Linked DNA regions of Homo sapiens. The protein of the gene in region 1 interacts with the protein of each later gene in a biochemical or structural test. Each region holds a gene or a part of one and is shown on either strand. Other genes may lie near its edges.

Region 1 (3,370 bases):
CCCAGGTTCAAGCGATTCTCCTGCCTCAGCCTACTAAGTAGCTGGGACTATAGGTGCGCACCACCACGCCTAGCTAATTTTTGTATTTTTTCAGTAGAGACAGGGTTTTGCTATGCTGGCCAGGCTGGTCTCAAACTCCTGACCTCAGATGATCCAGCCACCTCAGCTTCCCAAAGTGCTGGGGTTCCAGGTGTTAGCCACCATGCCTGGCCATAGACTTGTTTCTGTTCCCTTCTCACTGTGGCTGTACCAAGGTGTTGCTTATCCCAGAAGTCGTGATGCAGGTCAGCACTTTCTCCATGGGAAGTTTTAGCAGTGTTTCTTTTTAGAATGTATTTGGGAACTTTAATTCATAATTTAGCTTTTTTTTCTTCTTCTTATAAATAGGCTGTACCAGTGCAGGTCCTCACTTTAATCCTCTATCCAGAAAACACGGTGGGCCAAAGGATGAAGAGAGGTAACAAGATGCTTAACTCTTGTAATAATGGCGATAGCTTTCTGGAGTTCATATGGTATACTACTTGTAAATATGTGCTAAGATAATTCCGTGTTTCCCCCACCTTTGCTTTTGAACTTGCTGACTCATCTAAACCCCTGCTCCCAAATGCTGGAATGCTTTTACTTCCTGGGCTTAAAGGAATTGACAAATGGGGACACTTAAAACGATTTGGTTTTGTAGCATTTATTGAATATAGAACTAATACAAGTGCCAAAGGGGAACTAATACAGGAAATGTCATGAACAGTACTGTCAACCACTAGCAAAATCAATCATCATTGTGAAACATAGGAAGCTTCTGTAGATAAAAAAAAAAATTGATACTGAAAACTAGTCGAGACTCCATTTATATGTGTATGTTTTCTGAAAGCCTTTCAGAAAAATATTAAATTTAAGGACAAGATTTTTATATCAGAGGCCTTGGGACATAGCTTTGTTAGCTATGCCAGTAATTAACAGGCATAACTCAGTAACTGAGAGTTTACCCTTTGGTACTTCTGAAATCAGGTGCAGCCCCATCTTTCTTCCCAGAGCATTAGTGTGTAGACGTGAAGCCTTGTTTGAAGAGCTGTATTTAGAATGCCTAGCTACTTGTTTGCAAATTTGTGTCTACTCAGTCAAGTTTTAATTTAGCTCATGAACTACCTTGATGTTTAGTGGCATCAGCCCTAATCCATCTGATGCTTTTTCATTATTAGGCATGTTGGAGACTTGGGCAATGTGACTGCTGACAAAGATGGTGTGGCCGATGTGTCTATTGAAGATTCTGTGATCTCACTCTCAGGAGACCATTGCATCATTGGCCGCACACTGGTGGTAAGTTTTCATAAAAGGATATGCATAAAACTTCTTCTAACATACAGTCATGTATCTTTTCACTTTGATTGTTAGTCGCGGTTTCTAAAGATCCAGATAAACTGTACTTGCAGTTCAAATTAGGAAAAGCAATTTTATTGGACAATTACGGTGAAAATGAATTATTTTATCTAGGTCAGTTAAGAACACTGTTCTGCTAAGATGCAGTAAAAAGCAGGTTACATTTGACCATATTAGATCTGAGTTTGGAAAACAGAAGTAGTCTTTAGTTTTAAAATGGCCAGATTTTCTTGCCAGGATTGGGTTTCTCACTTGTTAAACAGAACATTTTGTTAAGTTTAAAACCTGGGATGGACTTAAGTATTCATGTTCATTCATGTTCATTCAGGACTGCAGGTTATCATGACTTGTTTAACTTGTGGGAAGCTGTTGTCCCAAGTTATCCTGGGGAACTGCATCTGGTTCTTGCAAAACACCAAGTAGACAGGCTCTCTTTTACCTCCCCTTGAGGGCATTAACATTCAGTAGTCACTTCCATTCAGTTAACCCTTTATTTTTATGGTTTTTCTTGAGCCATAGTTGTAAAGCAGAAAAATCATTTATAAAGGTTTGTTGAACAAAATTCAAAATACTGTTGCTTAAAGTATTAAGATTTTTTAGGATTATACCTTACTTATAGGCCCGTCATTCATTTGGCATGAAATTTTGAGTTTTATTCACTTTCACTTTCCTTTTTTTCCAAAGCAATTAAAAAAACTGCCAAAGTAAGAGTGACTGCGGAACTAAGGTTACTGTAACTTACCATGGAGGATTAAGGGTAGCGTGTGGTGGTCTACAACATAGTTATTTGGGTTTTAGTATTTCATTTAGACAGCAACACTTACCTAATGTTTAAAGGTAATGTCTTTGCAACACCAAGAAAAAGCTTTGAGTAGTAGTTTCTACTTTTAAACTACTAAATATTAGTATATCTCTCTACTAGGATTAATGTTATTTTTCTAATATTATGAGGTTCTTAAACATCTTTTGGGTATTGTTGGGAGGAGGTAGTGATTACTTGACAGCCCAAAGTTATCTTCTTAAAATTTTTTACAGGTCCATGAAAAAGCAGATGACTTGGGCAAAGGTGGAAATGAAGAAAGTACAAAGACAGGAAACGCTGGAAGTCGTTTGGCTTGTGGTGTAATTGGGATCGCCCAATAAACATTCCCTTGGATGTAGTCTGAGGCCCCTTAACTCATCTGTTATCCTGCTAGCTGTAGAAATGTATCCTGATAAACATTAAACACTGTAATCTTAAAAGTGTAATTGTGTGACTTTTTCAGAGTTGCTTTAAAGTACCTGTAGTGAGAAACTGATTTATGATCACTTGGAAGATTTGTATAGTTTTATAAAACTCAGTTAAAATGTCTGTTTCAATGACCTGTATTTTGCCAGACTTAAATCACAGATGGGTATTAAACTTGTCAGAATTTCTTTGTCATTCAAGCCTGTGAATAAAAACCCTGTATGGCACTTATTATGAGGCTATTAAAAGAATCCAAATTCAAACTAAATTAGCTCTGATACTTATTTATATAAACAGCTTCAGTGGAACAGATTTAGTAATACTAACAGTGATAGCATTTTATTTTGAAAGTGTTTTGAGACCATCAAAATGCATACTTTAAAACAGCAGGTCTTTTAGCTAAAACTAACACAACTCTGCTTAGACAAATAGGCTGTCCTTTGAAAGCTTTAGGGAAATGTTCCTGCTTAGTCATTTTAGCATTTTGATTCATAAAGTACCTCCTCATTTTAAAAAGACATTATGATGTAAGAGAGCCATTTGATAACTTTTTAGTGAGCTTTGAAAGGCAAGTTACAGCCTCAGCTAGCTAGTAAGATTATCTACCTGCCAGAATGGCACAAATTCTACATTCAAGGGTAGACGCTGGCACAACCTACTTACAGATTAGCCCTTTAAAGCAATCTGTAGCATTAGAAGATGGAACCAAGGAAATGTTTGACTGTGGGTTCTGGCTGTTGAGAAATAATTTACACACCGAATTAGTGA
Region 2 (3,500 bases), on another chromosome or scaffold:
CAAAACCCCTTTTTCCAAATAACATTTGCAGATTCTGGGGATTAGGACATGAACATATCTTTTGTGGGGTTACCATGCAACACACTAAAATATGGTTCTGGAAATTTTTGCTAAGGACATCAGTAAGGTATGCTAAATTATGCAAAAATCTAAAGGATATTTAACGTTTGTGCATAATTTTAAAAATGGGCCAGGTGCAGTGGCTCACGCCTGTAATCCCAGCACTTTGGAAGGCTGACGTGGGCGGATCACTTGAGTCCAGGAGTTCGAAATCAGCCTGGCCAACATGGCAAAACCTCGCCGCTTGTAAAAAAAAAAAAAAAAAAAAAAAATGATTAGCTGGGTGTGGTGGCAGGTGCCTGTAATCCCAGCTACTGGCAGGCTGAGGAATGAGAATCGTTTCAGCCTGGGAGGCGGAGGGTGCAGTAAGCCAAGATTGCGTCACTGCACTCCAGCCTGGGTGACAGAGTGAAACTCTGTCTCCAAAAAAAAGTTTTTATTTATTTATTTATTTTTATTTTTGAGACACAGATTTGCTTGTCACCCTGCCTGGAGTGCAATGTCGCAATCTCGGCTCACTATAACCTCCACCTCTCAGGTTGGAGCAATTCTCCTGCCTCAGCCTCCCAAGTAGCTGGAACTGCAGGTGCCCACCACCATACCTAGGTAAATTTTTTTTTGTATTTTTAGTAGAGACAGGGTTTCACCATGTTGGCCAGGCTGGTCTCGAACTCCTAACCTCAGGTGATTTGCCCACCTTGGCCTCCCAAAGTGCTGGAATTACAAGCATGAGTCACCATGCCTGACAAAAGTTGGTTTTATATTAAAGGGTATGGCTATAAGGAGAAATCTATTTGATATGGCTATGTATACAACCAGAAGTCACAACTGCCTACCAGGTAACCACTGCCACCCTTGCTTTGGATAAAAGAATTACAGTCATTGTACTATATACATCATATACCCTAAGATAACAGGCTTTTCTAAATGGTTACTTTATTTTCCCCACTTACGCACTCACACTACTTACCAGTTCCCACCCCCACTTACGCACTCACATTACTTACCAGTTCCCACCTCCACTTTCCAAATGACCTTATTTCATGATTTTATTTAAGGATGCCTATATAAAAAGTCCCATTTATTCCATACAAAAACTGAAAAACAGATTTGTTCAGGCAATATTAAATAGATGAGAGGTTTAAAATCTGGTGCTCAAACCAACCTAGTCGCCTCTCCTGATTCTATTTAAGAGCATCTTGTATTGATTTATTGTTACTGATTCCAATGTGGGAGGTAACAGTACATTCTATATGCACCAGTCTCATGGGAACTTCTATCCTGTTTTTTACACTGAGCCTTGCTCTGACTAGTTACTAATAATTAGAGGATCTCTTTTATAACAGTCTTGTCTGAGTAGCCCAGAGTGTTTCAAAGGCATAATTAACTTATACTAATCCAATGAAAAAGATGATGAATATCCTTCCTTATTTTATTTTAGAGATGGTGTCTTGCTCTGTTGCTCAGGCTGGAGTACAGTGGCACAATCTCAGCTCACTGCAACCTCTACCTCCCAAGTTCAAGCAATTCTCCTGCCTCAGCCTCCCTAGTAGCTGGCATGACAGGTGCCTGCCACCAAGCCCAGCAAATTTTTGTATTTTTTAGTAGAGGCAGGGTTTCACCATGTTGGTCAGGCTAGTCTTGCCCGACCTCAAATGATCTGCCTGCCTCAGCTCCCCATACTGCTGGGATTACAGGATTATACATTGGGAAAGACAGTAACGCGCAAAGTCATTTTGTGCGGAGATGTAAAACTGAGAGAAGACAGGTAGCCTGACTTTCAATCCAACTCAATAACTCCAATTCGAAGGTGTATGCAATTCTGTATTTGGCCTCAAAAGACACATCAATCAGTTAGAAAAAGACTACAAAAAGACAAGTTCTGCAGAAAGAAACATGTCATACAAAACGCCCCTAGAGCTACGCTGTCCAATATGAATAAAAGTACGTAAAGTCACTCATGATAATCTTTCAGATCTATTGGCTTAAATGCATTATGAAAACTAATTTTGCCTGTTTCCTTTTACTTCTTTAATGTGGCACTAGAAAATTTTAAATTATATTTGTGGCTCACATTGTATTTCTATTGGACAACACTGCTGAAGAGATAGTTATAAAATAAATACCTTAGATTGTAGATACTTTAATTCTATTAGCAAATACTTATTCGACATCTTTTATTGTCAGGCTTATGCTAAGTGCTAAGACTTAAAGAGTGAACAAAGAAAATGGTCCCTGCCATCACAGAGCTTGCATTAGCTCCTATACTTCTGCACATTTCACATAGTCTCATTTGTGATTATGCATTAGAATAACTTAATTTAGGATACCTTACCATTTTCAGGGGCAAATACCAATACGTGACTTAGAAATCACAAAATATAAATCAACAGATTCATGATAATGAGCTTATTTTTGTGATACAATATTTATATTAATACGTTATATAATATTTATCTGGAAACCTAACATCATCACATTCCCAAAAGCTTCTCCTGGTTTCTTGCTCCTTCCCTCTAACAACTCTGGCTCCCTCCTTATGGCTCACTTCTACCAAAGTCTCTTCAATTGGCAACCTGCCTGCTATTCAAATCATAAGGACTATTTTTATCCTCAGGGGTCTCCCCAACAGGACAGAAGTTAAAAATGCTAAGTATACATAATTTCATGGGGCCAACTCCAGTTTTTTGAACCAAAGACTCAGTTTCGAAGTTTCTTTTGGGCGTAAACAAGCTAAGGTGATTTCTGAGCAGGATTTTTGCTTCAGAATTCAATGCACAAACTTATTTCAGAGTTAAAACAACTGAACACTTCTGTCATATTGAGAGTTTCATGTAACAAAACCTTTCCTAATAGGACTTCTAAAACAAATTAACAGTAATTCTTTAGTAAATGATTTATAAAATAAAATACTAGATAACATCAATAGGATAAGACTACATAATGGTTTTAAGGCTAATGGCATAGCTTTTTAAAAAAGTTATCAATAAAAATAATTCTTCAGGTGTTAATGACAGTGATAAAGAGAGCAATGCAAGCAAAACCTCCTTTATCAAGAAGTGTTACTTTTTCCACTTTGATATAGAAAGTATCACTGACATATGATAACTTTTGAGAAACAAATGAAGTACACAAGTTTTAAACACCCAAAGTGATTTCACTGCCTGTTTGGTTGAAGCCTACCACCATCTGAAATACAGGTATGTTCAGCAAGGAAATATTATCCCTTAGTCTTTAGCTGTGCAGGTACGGTTAAGTAAATGAGTTGTTTCAATGTTAGACATCTTCTATCTACTAACAGAGAACTGGCATGGCTTAAAAAAAGAAAATTCATAATTACTCCTAGTTGGAGAAAAAAAATTCCTAAGTAAAGAAAAATTTAGCTATTCTCCGTAAGTAGTAAGATGAATATTTTGATAAATAGCTTTTAAGCTGAAGTA
Region 3 (2,970 bases), on another chromosome or scaffold:
TGTTCAGAAATGAGAATAAACTACCTAGCCCAAGGTCTCAGGTCTGCCGCTATTATCTCCACTGAAAATGCCCCTACTGAAGGGCCTCACTTGTCATTTTCACTAAGAAGTTTGTGAAAGAGACTGGAGTAGAAAGAAATGGTCGTTATTTTTATTAGACCAATTCTGAGTGCCTCATTATTTTAATGAGACCCAGGAAACTTCTGAACCAGAACCTGAAGCTTTAAAAATCCACGTATTAGGCCGGGCATAGTGGCTCACACCTGAAATCCCAGCACTCTGGGAGTCTGCGGCGGGTGGATCACTTGAGGCCAGGGGTTCGAGACCAGCCTGGCAAACATGGTGAAACCCCGTCTCTACTAAAAGTACAAAAATTAGCCAGGTGTGTTGGCGGGCACCTGTAATCCCAGCTACTAAGGAGGCTGAGGCAGGAGAATTGCTTGAACCGGGAGGGGGAGGTTGCAGTGACCCAAGATTGTGCCACTGCACTCCAGCTTGGATGACAGTGCAAGATTCTGTCTCAGCCGGGCACGGTGGCCCACGCCTGTAATCCCAGCACTTTGGGAGGCCGAGACGCGCGGATCACCTGAGGTCGGGAGTTCGAGACCAGCCTGACTGACGTGGAGAAACCACATTTCTACTAAAAATACAAAATTAGCCGGGCGTGGTGGTGCATGCCTGTAATCCCAGTTACTCGGGAGGCTGAGGCATGAGAATCACTTGAACCCAGGAGGCGGAAGTTGCAGTGAGCCAAGATTGCGTCACTGCACTCCAGCCTGGGCAACAAGAGTGAAACTCCATCTCAAAAACAAAAACAAAAACAAAAAAAAAGACTCTCTCAAAAATAAATAAATAAAATAAACTGCTGATGGGCCAGATGCAGTGGCTCACAGCTATAATCCCACCACTTTGGGAGGCTGAAGCTGAAAGATCACTTCAACCCAGGAGTTTGAGACAAGCCAGGGTCTACAAAACCAGCCATACAAAAATTCTTTTAAGATTAGCCACGCATGGTGGTGCACATTTATGGTCCCAGCAACTCAGGAGGCTGGGGCAGGAGAACTGTTTGAGCCCAGGAGTTCAAGGCTACAGTGAGCTCTGATGTCACCACTACAACTCCAGCCTGGACACAACAGAGTGAGACCTCCGTCTCAAAAGAAAAAAAAAAACCCAATCATGTACTTAAGTAGCAAATTGCTAAAACCAATTTAAATAACTAAAAATTCCTAGGCTAAGTGATATTTTAAAGTATTTATTTCTGAGAGGATCATTCTATAACTTACATACACATTTTAAATCCCCACCTACCTTTGCACGGACATTTTCAAATGATGCAGGACTCACAAGGGAAAAGCAAATTAAGAACACATCCTACAAAAAGGAAACACAGGGAAACATTTAGACAACAACCTTAGAATGAAGCATGCACTTTGCTTTCTACATGTTGCTGGGAAGGACTTGTTGGACGCAGAGCGTGTCTACCAGTGGTGTGGTCAGACGCTTCCTGATCCACCCTTTCAGTTTGTCAGAGGGCTCCCAAACCAAACCCAGCATGTCAAGCCACCAGTTACTTATGAAAATGGGGAGCATGAAGGGAGAATGATGCTGGAAGCTCTTCAAGGATCAGGAGGATCAGACCAGACCCTCAGGAGGCTTCCTTTACGCCTAACTATCTAAAATGAAAAAATCAAGTATAAAGGTATGATTCCAATATTTCTGTAAAATCTGGTTTAGAGTACAAACAGTTTTAGATGGTCACTGGTTCCAATTAAACTGCTTCTTCAGGAGCTGCCTGTCACAGCTCCCAGCACCAAGCGGGGGCTCCAATATTTGCTACTTGAGCCCTTCCCTCCACAAGGAAGGAGGACTTAGTGTGTAAGTGGCACCTTCACAGCTGACAACCACCCTCACGCTGCCCTAGAGTCAGCACAGCCAGGGCCTCAGGAGAACTCGCTCCCGGGGCAGCTGTGGCTGACGCAGAGGCGCAAAGGGTGGGTGCAGAGGACAGAGTAGAGGGTGCTTCGGGGCACACGCCAAACATCTGCATGCTTCATCCATTCTGTATTTTGTGTCAAACCAAATTCAAATATTCACCTGTATTTAAAAATGCCCAAGAATTCTAAAATGCTAGATTTCTAAAATATTCTCCTGGAAAAAGGCAATTATGCTACTTTATGAAATGCACACAATTCCCAAGCTACACTTTCAACCCTCCAGCTGATACCTTGTACCTGAAAGGGAAAGAAACATCCCACACAACAGCTTTTTATAACTGGCATTTGAAGAATGCTGGCGCATGCACAAGCTCGTCCAAGAATCACCGCGGCACCCAGCACACCATCTCAAGCACGGTGGGGTTAGCTCAGCAGCACTGCACAGCCACGCCCAGACAGCCCCACCACACGGGACACCCAAGCGGAGAAAGAAGGCCCCGGCAACAAGGTTAGTCCTGCTCCGGCTCGGCTCACAGCCAGGTGGGCTTCCGGGAGGAGTCTCCATATCTGCATCTCCAACCAGCCAGGAGAGGGGCCCTCTCACTGTCCCCTCCTTTCACTTGGGAGGAGAAGATCACAGTTCACAAACTGCTTTAATTCAAGCCGGTGGGTAAACTATCACACTCTAATGAAGTTTATTTCATCAAGCAAAACCCCAACCTTGAGTGAATTAAATATAAAACACTCAAGGAGCTTGAGGCTTAATAAAAAATCCTAGGAAAACGAAGTGAAATGAGAGAACAGAGAAAGCTTGAAACTGAAGTGGACTGAAAGTTTTACATACGGCAATCGGCTTGTCTTTGCCCCGGGAGGTTATATCCTTACCGTACGTTTCTCCAACCTAGTAATGCATGAGAACTTGGTTTGAGTTTAGTACAGACTGAGGACAACAAAAATCAATATAACCTCTTATCGATTCTTTATTAGAATTTTGTCTTAACCCTCCGGAGAGATCCAAAAGCATACAATAGATTCT
Region 4 (2,885 bases), on another chromosome or scaffold:
CCGTCAGGATCCTGGTCCCACGGGTAAAATGAGTACATCATGGAGAGGACCACAGCAGAACTTTTTTTTTTTTGGTTGTATATATATATATATATATTTTTTTTTTTTTTTTTTTTTTTTTTTTTTGAGGCGGACTCTTGCTCTTGTCACCCAGGCTGGAGTGCAGTGGCGGGAACTTGGCTCACGATCTTGGCTCACTACAACCTCTGCCTCCTGGGTTCATGCCACTCTCCTGCCTCAGCCTCCCGAGTAGCTGGGACTACAGGCGCCCGCCACCACACCTGGCTAATTTTTGGTATTTTTAGTAGAGACGGGGTTTCACCGTGTTAGACAGGATGGTCTTGATCTCCTGACCTCATGATCCGCCTGCCTCAGCCTCCCAAAGTGGTGGGATTACAGGTGTGAGCCACTGCGCCTGGTCTGGTTGTATAGATTCTGTAGCCACTCACTATGAAGAAATCGTTTATGATACTATGCAGACTATGAAGAACACAACAGACTTTAGATTTGAATAATTTATTCTAACAAAAGTATAAAGTATGGAAAATTAGTGTATTTGAATCATTTCAGAGAGTAGAGCAAGTTTCACACTAGCAGATTTCAGATTTTAGCACCTTTGAAATGAAATATTCAGAGTTAAGACAAGTGGCAACGCAGGCTGCAGGTGACCTACAGGGATACTCATCTGACTTCGGTGCCATTCACATCACAGTGCGGTCATTTGGTTTTTTCCTCTACATTGTGAAAGTGCCACAAAACAAAGAGAATGAGAAAAGAGTTCACTGAATTCATGGCTGGTGGTTAGAGGATGAACTAGAGACAAAAGGAGAAAGGCCATAGGCTGGACTGCAGGTCAAATAGACAGTCCGAAGGCACTGACGATGCAGTACATGGTCTTATTCTCCCATCGCACAGTGCAGCTCCCTGCGGGAGGGAAGAGAGCAGCATTTACGGCAGGGAAAGCTGGGGGACGACGTTTTACTCACAATAAGGCCAACATTCAAGTACCCATCTCTATGCTACACAAAGAACCTTGGCAAGTCTATTATTAAATGTTTTAAAAGGTGATAAACATGCATTGCATTCAAAGATAGGAAACTTCCAGTCATATATTTCACACAACAAAACTTCACAAACATGAATGAAAATCATACCGTCAGTAGAGCTGTCCCAGAAGCAGGAACTTGCTGTGTGTAATCCAGCTCCATTCTTCTGCATAATTACACAGGTCACTTAAGTTAAAACAAATTTTTGTTAGAGAAGTCTACTGGGTAACACAAATGTCATTCTGTCCACTTTTAGCAAACGTACAATGTATGTAGCTCCACGTGGTTGATGTTCTCGATAAAAATTATAGGGACAGATTGCCTTGTCTCACTATATTGACAAATTATAGGTGCTCCTTGACTTACAACATCCCATAAACCCATCATAAATCAACAATATATGAAAATGTAAGTTGCAAATGCACTTAATACCCTGGTAAATCCATCAAAGTTGAAAAATTCTAAGTTGAGCCACTGTCAGCTGGGGGCTGTCCACACTTCCTCTATGCTTCACTTGTTCTAAAAGCATCTGATGGGACCTCCTGTAAGATCCCGCTTCACATACGATCTGCAATTGTACCAGCAGCCAAATGGTCAAGCGTACGCTAACGTATACTACACACACGACCGACTCCCACCAGGAGCCTTCCTTGAGTTGAGCCACGTTAGCTGTTGTTTCTGGTACTGGATGCCCCTCTGATCAGTGTTAAAAAACCATCCCGCAAATATAAAAGAAACAAGACTCCATTACCGATGTATTTAAATGGTTTTCCCAGCTTGGTGAGTTGGCTTAAAGTTTGTTCTACTACATTTGTGGTCCACTGGTTCACTTTGCTGTGTTGATAAGCGTTACCACCAATTGCGCTTTCTATAGCCTAGAAAACAAAGCACAAAGCGCGTCCCGGTTAACCAAATGCACCCACACCACCTTTCAATCAGGAACTGACGGCACCCCAAGAAGTGATTTATGAAAAGTTTATTTTTAATCATGAGGGTGCCTTTGCAAATATACTTTTAATAGCATTATATTTCATTTAAATAAGTTTGAAATTTGCTTCAAAAATTCATAGTCTGTCAAATTATTTACACATTTTGACCTAATAATCACATTTCATGTTCACTACTATTAATACATTTTTTTTCCTGTTGAGGCTAGAAAGTATTTTGCCTATTCATTTCTTAAAAGTATATTACTTTTATCTACTACTACCTAACATACACTAATACTATATATTAGATGAATTGTATTTGTACAACTGACAATATACAAAGCTATCCAAATAATCATATATTAAAAAATACTTTTATCCAGCATTGTCTGAGAACATGTTACCACATTAAGTGCATTTTTCAGATAACTAAAAGCCCTTTATATTCCAAAACTTATTTTAGGTTTATGATGAGATTTTTTTATTTTTACTTTTCTGAGGCAGGGTGTCATGTTGCCCAGGCTGGAGAGCAGTGATGGAATCTTGGCTCACTGCAGCCTTGACCTCCTGGGCTCAAGCAATCCTCCCACCTCAGCTTCCCTCCTGGGCTCAAGCAATCCTCCCACCTCAGCTTGTCCAGTAGCTGGGACTGCAGGCATGTGCCACCACGCCTGGCTAGTTTTTTGTAGAGATGGGGTCTTGCTCTGTTGCCCAGGCTGCTCTCAAATGCCTGGGCTCAAGTGATCCTCCTGCCTCAGCCTCCTAAAGTGCTGGGATTACAGGCATAAGCCACAGCACCCAGCCCAACTTTTTTTCTTTATTATACGTTTACTTCTTTATCTATGCTGTATTCTTTGGGGGTTATCTGACAATGCAAGCTCATTGTCGCTGCTCTTGCTAAGCTTATCAT
Region 5 (4,216 bases), on another chromosome or scaffold:
ATTATCCCCTATAAAATTTTGCCATATTACTGAGGGTAGGGGAAAGTGTTGTTCACAGATATGCCCTCCAAAGTGCCCAAAATAACACCTTCGAAAGGTTTTAAATTGTGTTTGTTCATGAAAAACCTCCTGTGATGCTATCAGACCGATATTATTCTAAACTGTGCTCTAAAAAGATAAGTTTTGGGAATTACAATATGTTAATATCTAGCAGGACTTGCACTGGCAGAAGGATCAGTCTTTGTTTTGTCTTGCTTGGCCTTGGCAGGCAGTGTTCGTGAAAAAGTTGAATCTGAATTCAATAGAACTAGGGGAGGGCGCAAGGAGGATCCAGTTGACAAAGGCACCACCACATAGGGTATTCACTCAACAATCTTAATCTGTCCCACCACTGGGGAAGGCTTTTGAGATTGTCACTTCTACTCAGCTGCTAAAGCAGAAACTACATATACACTGAGTGATGAGACAAACAGTGAGCACATGGAGGGTCTGAGAAACCAAAGCAGGCCAAAGTAAACACGTGGAGACCCCAGAGGAAAGATGGAAGAAAAACAGCACTAGGATCAACTGAGAAATGAAAATATCATCAGCGGAGAGTAAGAAGTGATAAACCTGCCAGAGGTAAGACCTCTACTGAAAATGCTGGAAGAAAAGGAAATTTCCTAAAAAGTAATCATCATCACAGAAAAATCAACAGCTTTTATGTAATGTTTTCTGAAGAGATATTAACTTTAGAATCTGAACATGGCTTTTATCAAAATAAAGTCCTGCGGGGGGAAATCCATTAAACAATACCAGTGTTGTTATATAAATAAAATAAGGGTTCCTTCTCAAAGGCTTATTTATATCTTAGACTTAAAAAATATCAAAGACTACATTATAATCTTAACATGGCAAAAACACTCTCCATATCACTTTGTTTACCTGCTAACTCAAATGCAAAAACAGATTTGAAATTAAGCAAGAGATGTGAGTTGAGTTCTTTCGCTTCTCCCTTCTTTAGGACTGTAAAGTTCAGCTTTACACAGCAGTAGATAAACAGGAACTTCACCCTTCACTGCCTTCTACTAAACTCTCCATCAGAAGGACCAGGAGACTTAATCTACAGCCCACAGAGTCCATAAATCCCACCGCTTCCTGATGAAGCACAGTGGGACTAATTATAACAAATGAGTTGCATATCATACTATCAACTTGGAATATTAATCTCTCAGTCATTTACAGCCCACTTTCAACCCCAAATGGGAACATGCAAGGAGACAAGATCCAAGAAGCCATATTAAATCCAAGTGAGGCTTTAAATCCTGGAGAAACTTTTCTGATCACTGCGGGATTTACATAAGTATTCAAGGCCAAGATGAAAGCAAAATTCTCTAGCCAAAATACCGTTGATCTGATCAGTCTGAAATTATCTGTTCTAATGAACGAAACCAGCATGTGTGCCTTATCAATGCTGCTTATCTCGCAGGGGCAGACAACCTGGAAACTGTGTTAGAATAGATCCTCAAATAAGAAACATTCAGTTAAAATGATGGGCTGCCTCTTGACACTGTGAATGTTTTGCTGCGTTCAGACATCAAAGGAAAACTGTCATGAACATCAGGTAAAGGCAGCAGAAAAGGAAGCACAGTTTGGTGTTTGTTTCATTACACAGCTCCCAAAGGGGACAATCGAATACTAAGCGGCAAAAAAGTTGTGGGAGACGGCCTCTCTCCAACCGGAATGTCCAAAGACACCTGAGTGCCGAAAATTCCCCCATACTCAACGTCTGAATTCTCCCCTCTGCCCTCTCCTCTTCGTCGGAAGAAAATCCGCTAACAATCCCATGCCTGACCAAGTGGGAAAAGCTTTCAACTTCACTCTACTTCGTCCAACCCTCGGGATAACGCACTCCCAGATCCCGACCTCCCCTTGAACCTGCCCTCTGAGATCTTCTAGTTTCTCCCGAGGGTCCCTCAGAAAACCCAGCCCGTTCCTCCCCACTGCCCCTTAACCCCTTCCCCTGCCCCAGGCCCCGTCCGCGCCCCAGCGCAGACCATCACCCGCCGCCTCCCCGACCCCCTTCCCGGAGCCCTCAACGCTGGCCTGCCCCTCGGGGCCTCCTCCTCGCAACCCCACGCGATGTTCCTCCCGCCCGCGGCCCCCTCCCCCTCCCCGCGCCTCACCACTCTCCCTCAGCAGCGCTCCCGCGAGCAAGGCCGCGCCCCCCAGGCGCTCGCCCTCGGGGGTCCCTGGCGGAGGGGCCCCTAGGCCCACCACGCCCCCGCGGATAAAGGGTGACGCAGCGGACCCCGCCCCTGCCCCGCGGGCCCGGCCGCCTCGCTCACCCACACGAAGAGGCTGTCTGAGAGCAGGTACTGGGCCACATCGCGGGCCCGGGGTCCCCCGGCGCTCGGCCGGGCGGGCGCCGGCGGCTCAGGCTGCAGCGAGGCCGTTAGCTGGTCCGGCTCGCCGGGGCCGGCCTCGGGCTGGCTGAGCGCGCGGTAGGCGCTGATGATGGTGCCCAGCAGGGCCAGGCCGCTGAGGCCCGTGTAGGTGCGGAGGCTGGGCCAGGGGAAGCGCTCGAGGAAGAGCAGCGGCATGGCGGCAGCGGCGACCTCTGGCCCCCAGGCTTCCCTGCGCTGCGGCCGGGCCTCTGCGGCGGCCTCGCGAACGGCGCCCACGGGCTCTGGCGTCGCTGCCGCTGCCGCTGCCGCCGCCGCCGCCGCGCCGGGCCGGGCCGGGCCGCTCCTGGCTGCTGGCGCCGCTCCGCCCCGCGCTGCTCCCGCTGCTGCCCCTGCCGGCGCGGAAGAGCCTGGGCGGGCTCGGGACAGGCCGCCGCCCCCAGCGGGACGCTGGCGGGACGGGCGCAGGGGCGCGGCCTTCGTCCCCCGCCCCCAGCGGTCGCGCCGCCGCCTAGCGGGCGTAGCCCCGGGCCTCAGGCCGGGGGGCGGGCACCCAGCATCATCCGCCGTCCGCACCACGGCTTGGCTGGGCCCGCAGACACAGAGGGCACCTGCTCCGGCCGCGGCGCAGGGGTCACTCGGGCTCGCAGGCGCTGGCAGGCGGGCAGGGCCTCAGGGCGCGGGGCACCCTGGCCACCAGGCCGTCGGCCACTTGCCCCCCCCCCACCCCATTAACCCTCTGAAGAGGTTACCCCCAGCACTCCTAGGGGCCGCGCAGCTTCCCTGGTGCCCGAAACCCCAGAAGAAAGAATATTAACAGTCTTTCAAGTTTCTGCTGTTTGCTAGTAGCCTCCAGCAGAAACTAAAAAATGAACCTGATTTAGCGGGAAATAAAAATGTGTTCCCTCATACCCCAGAAGTGAGAATGTCAAATGGTGCAGCTGTCTTGGAAAATAACCTGTCCTTTCCTTAAAGTCAAACAAGAGTGACCATTTGACCCAGTAATTCCACTCCTCTAAGAAAAGTGGAAACATACCTCCACACAAAACTTGTACACAAATGTTGATTACATTCTAACAATCAAAAGATGGGAACAACGCTAATGTCCGTCAAGCGATGAGTGGATAAATGTGATACATCCATAAAATGTACTATTCGGCCATAAAAATGAACTACTGATACATGCTACAATAGGAACGAACCTTAAACACGTGCTAAGTCAAAGAAGACAGCCACAAAGGTCCACGTGTTGTGTGATTCCATTGATATGAAATGTCCACAATAGGCAAGTACATATACAGACACAGAAAGTTGATTAATGATTGCTTAGGGATGGGAGGAAGAGGGGAGTAGGGGGTGATAAAGGGTGCAGGTTTCTTTTAAGAGACAGGGTCTGTGGCCCAGGCTAGAGTACAGTGGCATGCTCACTGCATCCTCCATCTCCTGGACTCAAGAAATCTTCCTGCTTCAGTCTCTCCAGTAGCTGGGATTACAGGCGTATGCCACCACACCTGGCTAATTTTTAATTTTTGGTAGAGACAGCGTCTTGCTATGTTGTCCAGACCAGTCTGTGGCTCCTGAGCTCAAGTGATCCTCCCACCTTGCCTTCACAAAGTGCAGGGATTACAGGCGTGAGTCACTGGCTGGGATAGGTTTGTTTTCAAAGTAATGAAAATGTAAAATTGAGGTGATGATTGCCCAACTCTGAATTGAAAAATCATTGTACACTTTAAATAGTTCTATCTCAATATGCGAATTGTATCTCAATAAGCTGTTACCAAAGGAAAAAAATGTTACCTTGGGAGTTTTATTCCTTTTGCATCCCCAGGGCC
Region 6 (3,500 bases), on another chromosome or scaffold:
ACAGCAAGACAATTTCTGTGATGGGATTTGAACCAGGTGGTCTGATCGTAAAGTACTGTAATCCCACTGGCAAGAGGGACAGGTGTGATGATTCATGCATATGCCAGGAGAGAAAGCACCTACAACATAGTTCCAAAAGGCCAGAACTGCTGCAGTGGTTTCTCCTCTTTTTATTTCCACTCAAGCTATTGAATGATAGTGAGGCTCAAATAGAGGCTTAATGCATAGGAGCCACAGACCGAATATTTATACAGTTCCCCACCTTTTAAAAACAAATACACTTCATTCTCTTTTGCAAGGTAATATAAGTAATGTTAAAGCCGTCTTACCAAGATTGTCCTTTGTAAATTAGAGTTAACACTACTGAACATCAATTTACCAACTATTGTAGCAATAGTAGGAAAGACAAGGGCTCCACACAAGATTCGAGTAGCAGAGACATGATCTGCTAAAGGATTGGCCTCAGCTGGAATTCGAGGAACAGGACAACCTATCCCTAGAGGAAAAAAATGCAGTGCGTTAGTGCTAATAAATCAGAAGAGTTAGACTACCTTCAAACATGGCTAAAAAAGCATGTTATTGTTCTTCAAGATCAATTTGGTATGCACTTTACAACCACAGTTCAGTGCCTTACCTGGAAATATACTATTTAAAATTTGTAGTTTATTCGAGTATTTGCGCCACAGTCTAAGCACATAGTCCTCCCAGCGAATCATCTTGCCTAATATCAGCATGACAGGAATAGTAGGAAGTCCAATTAAAAGGAATAAAGGATCAGCTCTCTCCATAACATCCAGACCTTCTTTATGACCTACAACCTGTGAAACAGATAGCATATATTAGAATTACTTCTTTTTCAAATGAGGTGTTGCATGTTAAGCTCTATTTTTTTAATAGAAAATGCTTAATTTCAAAAGAATACACAGAAATAAAAAGTTTAAAAAATAAGCTGGAAAGCTATCAGTCCTGATTTATTTATAAGAAATGTCTCATTCAAGGGAAAAACAAAGTTCCCAAGCCATTTCATACCACACAGGAATAAAAATTAAAATGGCTGACCCAGACTGATTACATTACAATAGAGGGGCGGGGACCTCTGATTGTTGCTTCTATTCCTTTATTTGATTTGGTTAGACTGGGCTACGGAACTGGGATATAATTCTAAGTCCTATTTGTCTTCCAGCAAAACAACTGTTTTCCTGATCTTCCTTCTAGGAGATTAAGCATAGCCAGCCAAGAGGTAGGACCGGCCTTCAAGAGATGGCCTGAAAGCTCATTTCTCTTTGGCTCTTTCTCCTTACTTAGTGGTGTGTAAGATAGGGTGTGATGTCTCTGGCTGGCTAAGTGTCTACCCTACAGACCTAACCCTCCTTAAGTGCACTTCCAAGGTCTAGAATTGAGGGACTGTAGTAGGAGGTCCAGTTTTGGTTACAGATCCCAGGCATTTTTCCCAATTCAGGAACTCTAGGGTACCCTATCTATGGGGGTAATGAAGCTAATACAATCTTTTCCTTACCCTATCCTAGTCTTGGGGCTATTTCTAAATTGGTGTAGATCCCAGAAGGCGAGAAATACAAAATTGGCATTTGTGAACTTCTACCTTTTCCCTCTCTCCAAAATCCTTTTCACTTCCACATCAATCTTGGCCTTAAATTTACCTCTTTTTGTTGTTGTTTTTGAGATGGAGTCTCGCTGTGTTGCCCAGGCTGGAGTGCAGTGGTGTGATCTTGGCTCACTGCAACCTCCGGCTCCTGGATTCAAGCGATTCTTCTGCCTTAGCCTCCCGAGTAGCTGGGATTACAGGGGCATGCCACCATGCCCAGCTAATTTGTGTATTTTTAGTAGAGACGAGGTTTCATCATGTTGGCCAGGTTGGTCTCGAACTCCTGACCTCAGGTGATCAGCCTGCCTCGGCCTCTCAAAGTGCTGGGATTACAGGCGCGAGCCACCGTGCCTGGCCAAAAATTTTTTTTTTTTTTTTGAGACGGAATTTTTTGCTCTTGTTGCCCAGGCTGGAGTGCAATGGCACGATCTTGGCTCACTGCAACCTCTGCCTCCCAGGTTCAAGCAATTCTCCTGCCTCAGCCTTTCGAGTAGCTGGGATTACAGGTGTGCACCTCCACGCCCAGCTAATTTTTGTATTTTTAGTAGAGACGGGGTTTCTCCACATTGGTCAGGCTGATCTCGAACTCCTGACCTCAGGTGATCCACCCGCCTCGGCCTCCGACAGTGCTGGGATTACAGGCGTGAGCCACTGCGCCCGGCCCCAGAAATGTTTTATGAAAGTGTGTGGAGAGGACCAAATTTGAGCTATGGATATAGTCCAGATTTCCACTTGGTTAATTTATCTAATTAAGATGTAATATTAAAGGGCAGGAGGCTAGCCTCTTCCTAATGGTCAATAATGTCATCGAATTTGATATTCTTCTGTGTCTCCAGGTAGAACTTAACAACTTCCTATCTTGCATGTGGAAGGTGATCCTTTTGAGTTGCCCTAAAGTGAAATGGTCTGGTTTATGATATTTCATAAACCCCAATTCCATAATGGTAGCAAAAGTTAGCTGGCCATGACTGTTTTACCTATAATGATTTCCCAGGAAATTTCTTTATCTATCTATCTATCTATCTATCTATATATCTATCATCTATCTATCTATCTATCTATCTATCTATCTATCTATCTATCTATCTATCTATCTATCTGAGACGGAGTTTCAGTCTTGGCATGATCTTGGCTCACTGCAACCTCCACCTCCTGAGTTCAAGCTATTCTTCTGCCTCAACCTCCTGAGTAGATGGGATTACAGGCACATGGCACAACACCTGGCTACTTTTTTGTATTTTTAGTAGAAATGGGGTTTCACCACGTTAGCCAGGTTGGTCTCGAATTCCTGACCTCAGGTGATCCGCCTGCCTTGGCCCCCCAAAGTGCTGGGATTATAGGCGTGACCCACCACGCCCGGCCAGGAAATTCCTTTAAAGAAAAAAAAAGACAGGGTCTTGCTACGTTTCCCAGGTTGGCTTTGTACTCCTGGGCTCAAGCAATCTTCCCACCTCACCCTCCTGAGTAGCTGGAACTACAGATGAGTGCCACCACGTCTGGCTAAGAAATTCTATTTTTATATCATTAAAAATTTCAATATAATGATCACTCTAACATTATAACTAAATATGATTAAATATTCTCAAAGTGTTAGCAAATAAATTCAGAATATTTGAAAAAATCCTTTGTCGGGTTATGTGTCCTTTTTTTGGGTTTAGAAATATAAAGAAGAGTGAATATTCAGGTATAGACTAGAGCGAACAAGAGGAAGTTTGTTTCTCATGGGTAGCAGTAAAAACCTTATAAGGTGTTTAAGAATAAGGAAACAAAAAGGAAGTAGGGGTTGGGCACTGTGACTCACAATTGTAATCCTAGCACTTTGGGAGGCTGAGGCAGGCGGATCACCTGAGGTCAGGAGTTTGAGACCAGCCTGACCAACATGGTGGAACCCCGTTTC
Region 7 (3,500 bases), on another chromosome or scaffold:
TCTCTACTAAAAATACAAACATTAGCCAGGTGTAGTGGTGTGCACCTGTAACCCCAGCTACTCAGGAGGCTGAGGCAGGAGAATCACTTGAACCCAGGAAGCGGAGGTTGCAGTGAACTGAGACTGCGCCACTGCACTCCAGCCTCAGTGACAGAGCAAGACTGTTTAAACAAACAAACAAAAAATTAACAAAATCTTATTTCTAGTGGTTTACATATTAATGATGCTGGCAACTTTTAGTTGAAATGTATTAAACAGCCTCGCAGTTTTTATTTTTATGAATTCTGCATACAATAAATAAATACCAACCAAAATATCTATACAGGCATACCCCAGAGATACTGCCGGTTCAGTTTCAGACCATGGCAAATAAAGTGATTATGGCAGTAAAGTGAGTCACACAAATTTTTTTGTTTCCCAGTGCTTATAAAAGTTACGTTTACATTATACTGTAGTCAAGTGTGTAACAGCATTGTCTAAAAATAAGTACATTATCTTAATTTAAAATCATTGCTAAAAATGCTAATGAAGTGAGCACATTTTGTTGGAAAAATGGTGCTGGTAGACCTGCTTGATGCAGGGTTGCCACCAAAAAAACTCAGTATCTGCAAAGTGCAATAAAGTGAGATACGCCTGTAATGTCTTTTTTCTCTTCTGTTATTACAAGCACTACTTTAAGTCTTCAACTACCGAATACTTGTAGACTATTTAATGAATTAATATTTTCATCATATTTATATTGAGAAAATTAAGAAGCTGAATTTAGTTAGAAAAGGTTTAGAATATCATCAACTCTTGAGGATGAGTTGGAAGCTACTTTATCTGTCATTTTTCACATAACACTAGTTTGCCCTTCAAATCATACATTTAAAAATGATCTTAAGATACATACCAAGTAGGGATTATGTTGTTATAAAAAGCTAGAAGTAAAATTAAGACTTTAATTTCAAAGATAATTTCTCTATAAAGAATAGCACAAGATATGTTCAACTATTCTCAGAGATGCATCAAGATATGACTTTTTTTCCTACTAGAAATTATATCTATGATCAATCATATTACAGAGATATTGCTGTTATACTCCTTGTGACTGATGAGGGGGGTTTTTCCTATCACCATGTTATCCCAACCCTTTAATGAATCACCTTTGAAACTCAGAACAGGTAGCAGCACAGAGGTTGCTAAGAGTAAATACATTCACCACTGCTGCCAGAAATGACCAACGGTGCACCAGAAAGAAGAAATACTGGTGAATTCCCACATACCACGACGAACAACCTTATAAAATAACAGAACAAATGAATATAAAGTAACATACAGCCATCCCTTGGTATATGTGACAGGGATTGGTTCCAGGACCACGTGTGTATACCAAAATCCATGCACGCTCAAGTTCTGCAGTTGGCCCTGTGAAACTGGCATGTATGAAAGTCAGCCCTCTGTATATGCAGGTTCTGAGTCCCACCAATACTGAATCTGCTCTTAGTTGAGAAAAAAAATCTGCATGTCAGAGGGCCCATGAAGTTCACAGCTGTGTTGTTCAAGGGTCAACTGTAATATAAAAATAACATTTATTGCTAGATAGAGTTGATATTCATTCTAGTGTTTATATACTTGAGTCTTAGAGCAATAGCCTTTGGAGACAACTTCCAGGAAGGTACGTGTTTGCATGCCTTCTCACTGCAATCCATCAGTAGCTGCCACTTGAACCAGTCTTAGCAGGGGATGGGGAAGCCTATGTCTTTCAGAATTGGATGATGTAGTACACAGAAGTAGACAGTAGAGTAGTAAGGGCATTTGCTTAAAAGCAGATAGAACTGGGAACCTCTACATCTTTCTGTGAGAATTCAGGGCTTAGTTTTTTAGGGTGTAAAATGGAAATACTAGTATGTATCTGGACATATTATCTTAAGAATTAAATAAAAGACTACCATTTCACTCAAAAAGTGCTTGATCCTGGGAAGCCATGTAACAGTTCACAAATGCAGAGTTCAAAAGAAAGGAAAAATTGCAGACATGGTAGCCTTATTTTAATTATCTTCTAACCAGCAGTAAGCATACTCTAACCAGTGAGGAATACTAGATAATCCATACGCCAAATGCAGGAGATTACATGAGACTTATATATAACAACACTTCATTCATGAAATAAATCACAAGATTAGCTCTGAAAAATGGTGATTATATTACAAATACAAATCTAAGTATATAGATGACAATTTGTGAGTTTGCTTATTTGGGAATTAGTACCTAGAGATAAAGGTCTGAAGCAAAATCACACACCCCTTTGGTGAATCAAATCTTCCTCTGAAGAACTAAGTACCTCACCTAATCAGAACAGAGTCCCTGGTATAGCCACCGTCATATTCTGTAGTTTCTTCTAGTGCTTGGAAATCTAGATTCTGCAAATTCAAGAAAATATGTCTTAGTTATCTGCTATACTACTGTATCATTACAAACAATAAATCGATACATGACTTTTTGCAGACACCTGCTTTCTTACCCGGCTTCCACATATAAGCAATTCAATTTCTTCTGGTCTGAATAAGTACTTTAAGGGAGATTCATTGGTCACCATATGAAAACCTCTCCGAAAAGCCTTGAACTGTTTTTCTACTGATTTATTGAGAATGTAGTCAGAATAAAGATTGACAAATTCCTGTAGAAAACATTAATCACAAGAACTTCTTATAATATGCTATGCAAACAAAACACAAGTTATTGGGCTGCATAGCTTTTTAATTTTTCCAAGAAAAAAACATTCAAGAATATTCTTAAAAATTCAATTTTACACCTACTTCTTAACAATTTCACAATTCTCTGTTATAGCCAATATTAAGCTATGAAAAGGCCATATACATAAAACTGTCAAGAATATTCTTAAAAATTCAATTTTACACCTACAAAGAAAACTACTTCTTACAATTTCACAATTCTCTGTTACAGCCAATATTAAGCTATGAAAAGGCCATATACACAAAACTGTCATACTTATAAATGTCAATTTCGATAATGTATTAAACAGAACTGAATATAAATGCTGGAGACGCAGAAAATTCTTTAGGTTCTCTCAACTAGGTATGTAAACAGACACATTTAAACCATGTATCCATCTATTTATAAATGCCAACCGTTTTAAGAGAGTACAATATATTTGATTTAAGCAAACCAGGAAGTCCCAAGTTTTCTACCATAGAATATTTGGTAAGCTGCCTACTGTATCCAGTTCAGCAAAAATGTGGAAGTACTGACTGACACATAAACTACTGTATCAAATCATAAAAGGAAAATGTGCTTTGTACCCTTAGTGTGTATAATATTTAATCAAAAAATTATATCAATATAAACATGTTTCTTAAAGGTATACTATATATTTGTCATAATTTTTTGCTTGTTATGTTCTGGGTTATTCCCATTCCCGATGAACACATTTTAGTCAATAGAAACCCAAATCTGACGTAAAGTATACTTTTCAGAAATGTATTTTTATCACAAACAGG

The links.
Region 2: of the proteins of SOD1 (region 1) and RNF19A, one has a biochemical effect on the other in vitro, tested with the Homo sapiens proteins (one study listed by BioGRID).
Region 3: the proteins of SOD1 (region 1) and RAC1 form a complex in vitro, tested with the Homo sapiens proteins (one study listed by IntAct).
Region 4: the proteins of SOD1 (region 1) and DYNLT1 form a complex in vitro, tested with the Homo sapiens proteins (one study listed by BioGRID).
Region 5: of the proteins of SOD1 (region 1) and AMFR, one has a biochemical effect on the other in vitro, tested with the Homo sapiens proteins (one study listed by BioGRID).
Region 6: of the proteins of SOD1 (region 1) and MARCHF5, one has a biochemical effect on the other in vitro, tested with the Homo sapiens proteins (one study listed by BioGRID).
Region 7: the proteins of SOD1 (region 1) and UBE3A form a complex in vitro, tested with the Homo sapiens proteins (one study listed by BioGRID).

What each region holds. Positions count from the first base shown.
Region 1 is NC_000021.9:31,666,062-31,669,431, forward strand, and holds the end of SOD1 (superoxide dismutase [Cu-Zn]), read left to right. Parts: intron 1-387; coding exon 388-457; intron 458-1,196; coding exon 1,197-1,314; intron 1,315-2,409; coding exon 2,410-2,517; 3' UTR 2,518-2,870; downstream 2,871-3,370. UniProt on the Homo sapiens protein: Destroys radicals which are normally produced within the cells and which are toxic to biological systems.
Region 2 is NC_000008.11:100,303,454-100,306,953, forward strand, and holds part of RNF19A (E3 ubiquitin-protein ligase RNF19A), read right to left. Parts: intron 1-3,500. UniProt on the Homo sapiens protein: E3 ubiquitin-protein ligase which accepts ubiquitin from E2 ubiquitin-conjugating enzymes UBE2L3 and UBE2L6 in the form of a thioester and then directly transfers the ubiquitin to targeted substrates, such as SNCAIP or CASR.
Region 3 is NC_000007.14:6,398,527-6,401,496, reverse strand, and holds part of RAC1 (ras-related C3 botulinum toxin substrate 1), read right to left. Parts: intron 2,836-2,970; coding exon of another isoform or gene 2,779-2,835; intron 1,372-2,778; coding exon 1,309-1,371; intron 1-1,308. UniProt on the Homo sapiens protein: Plasma membrane-associated small GTPase which cycles between active GTP-bound and inactive GDP-bound states.
Region 4 is NC_000006.12:158,635,974-158,638,858, forward strand, and holds the end of DYNLT1 (dynein light chain Tctex-type 1), read right to left. Parts: intron 1,922-2,885; coding exon 1,798-1,921; intron 1,233-1,797; coding exon 1,155-1,232; intron 925-1,154; coding exon 854-924; 3' UTR 501-853; downstream 1-500. UniProt on the Homo sapiens protein: Acts as one of several non-catalytic accessory components of the cytoplasmic dynein 1 complex that are thought to be involved in linking dynein to cargos and to adapter proteins that regulate dynein function.
Region 5 is NC_000016.10:56,422,746-56,426,961, forward strand, and holds the start of AMFR (E3 ubiquitin-protein ligase AMFR), read right to left. Parts: upstream 2,801-4,216; 5' UTR 2,583-2,800; coding exon 2,328-2,582; intron 2,245-2,327; exon of another isoform or gene 2,166-2,244; intron 1,990-2,165; exon of another isoform or gene 925-1,989; intron 1-924. UniProt on the Homo sapiens protein: E3 ubiquitin-protein ligase that mediates the polyubiquitination of lysine and cysteine residues on target proteins, such as CD3D, CYP3A4, CFTR, INSIG1, SOAT2/ACAT2 and APOB for proteasomal degradation.
Region 6 is NC_000010.11:92,346,667-92,350,166, reverse strand, and holds part of MARCHF5 (E3 ubiquitin-protein ligase MARCHF5), read right to left. Parts: intron 819-3,500; coding exon 635-818; intron 497-634; coding exon 330-496; intron 1-329. UniProt on the Homo sapiens protein: Mitochondrial E3 ubiquitin-protein ligase that plays a crucial role in the control of mitochondrial morphology by acting as a positive regulator of mitochondrial fission and as an important regulator of immune response.
Region 7 is NC_000015.10:25,352,025-25,355,524, forward strand, and holds part of UBE3A (ubiquitin-protein ligase E3A), read right to left. Parts: intron 2,660-3,500; coding exon 2,504-2,659; intron 2,403-2,503; coding exon 2,329-2,402; intron 1-2,328. UniProt on the Homo sapiens protein: E3 ubiquitin-protein ligase which accepts ubiquitin from an E2 ubiquitin-conjugating enzyme in the form of a thioester and transfers it to its substrates.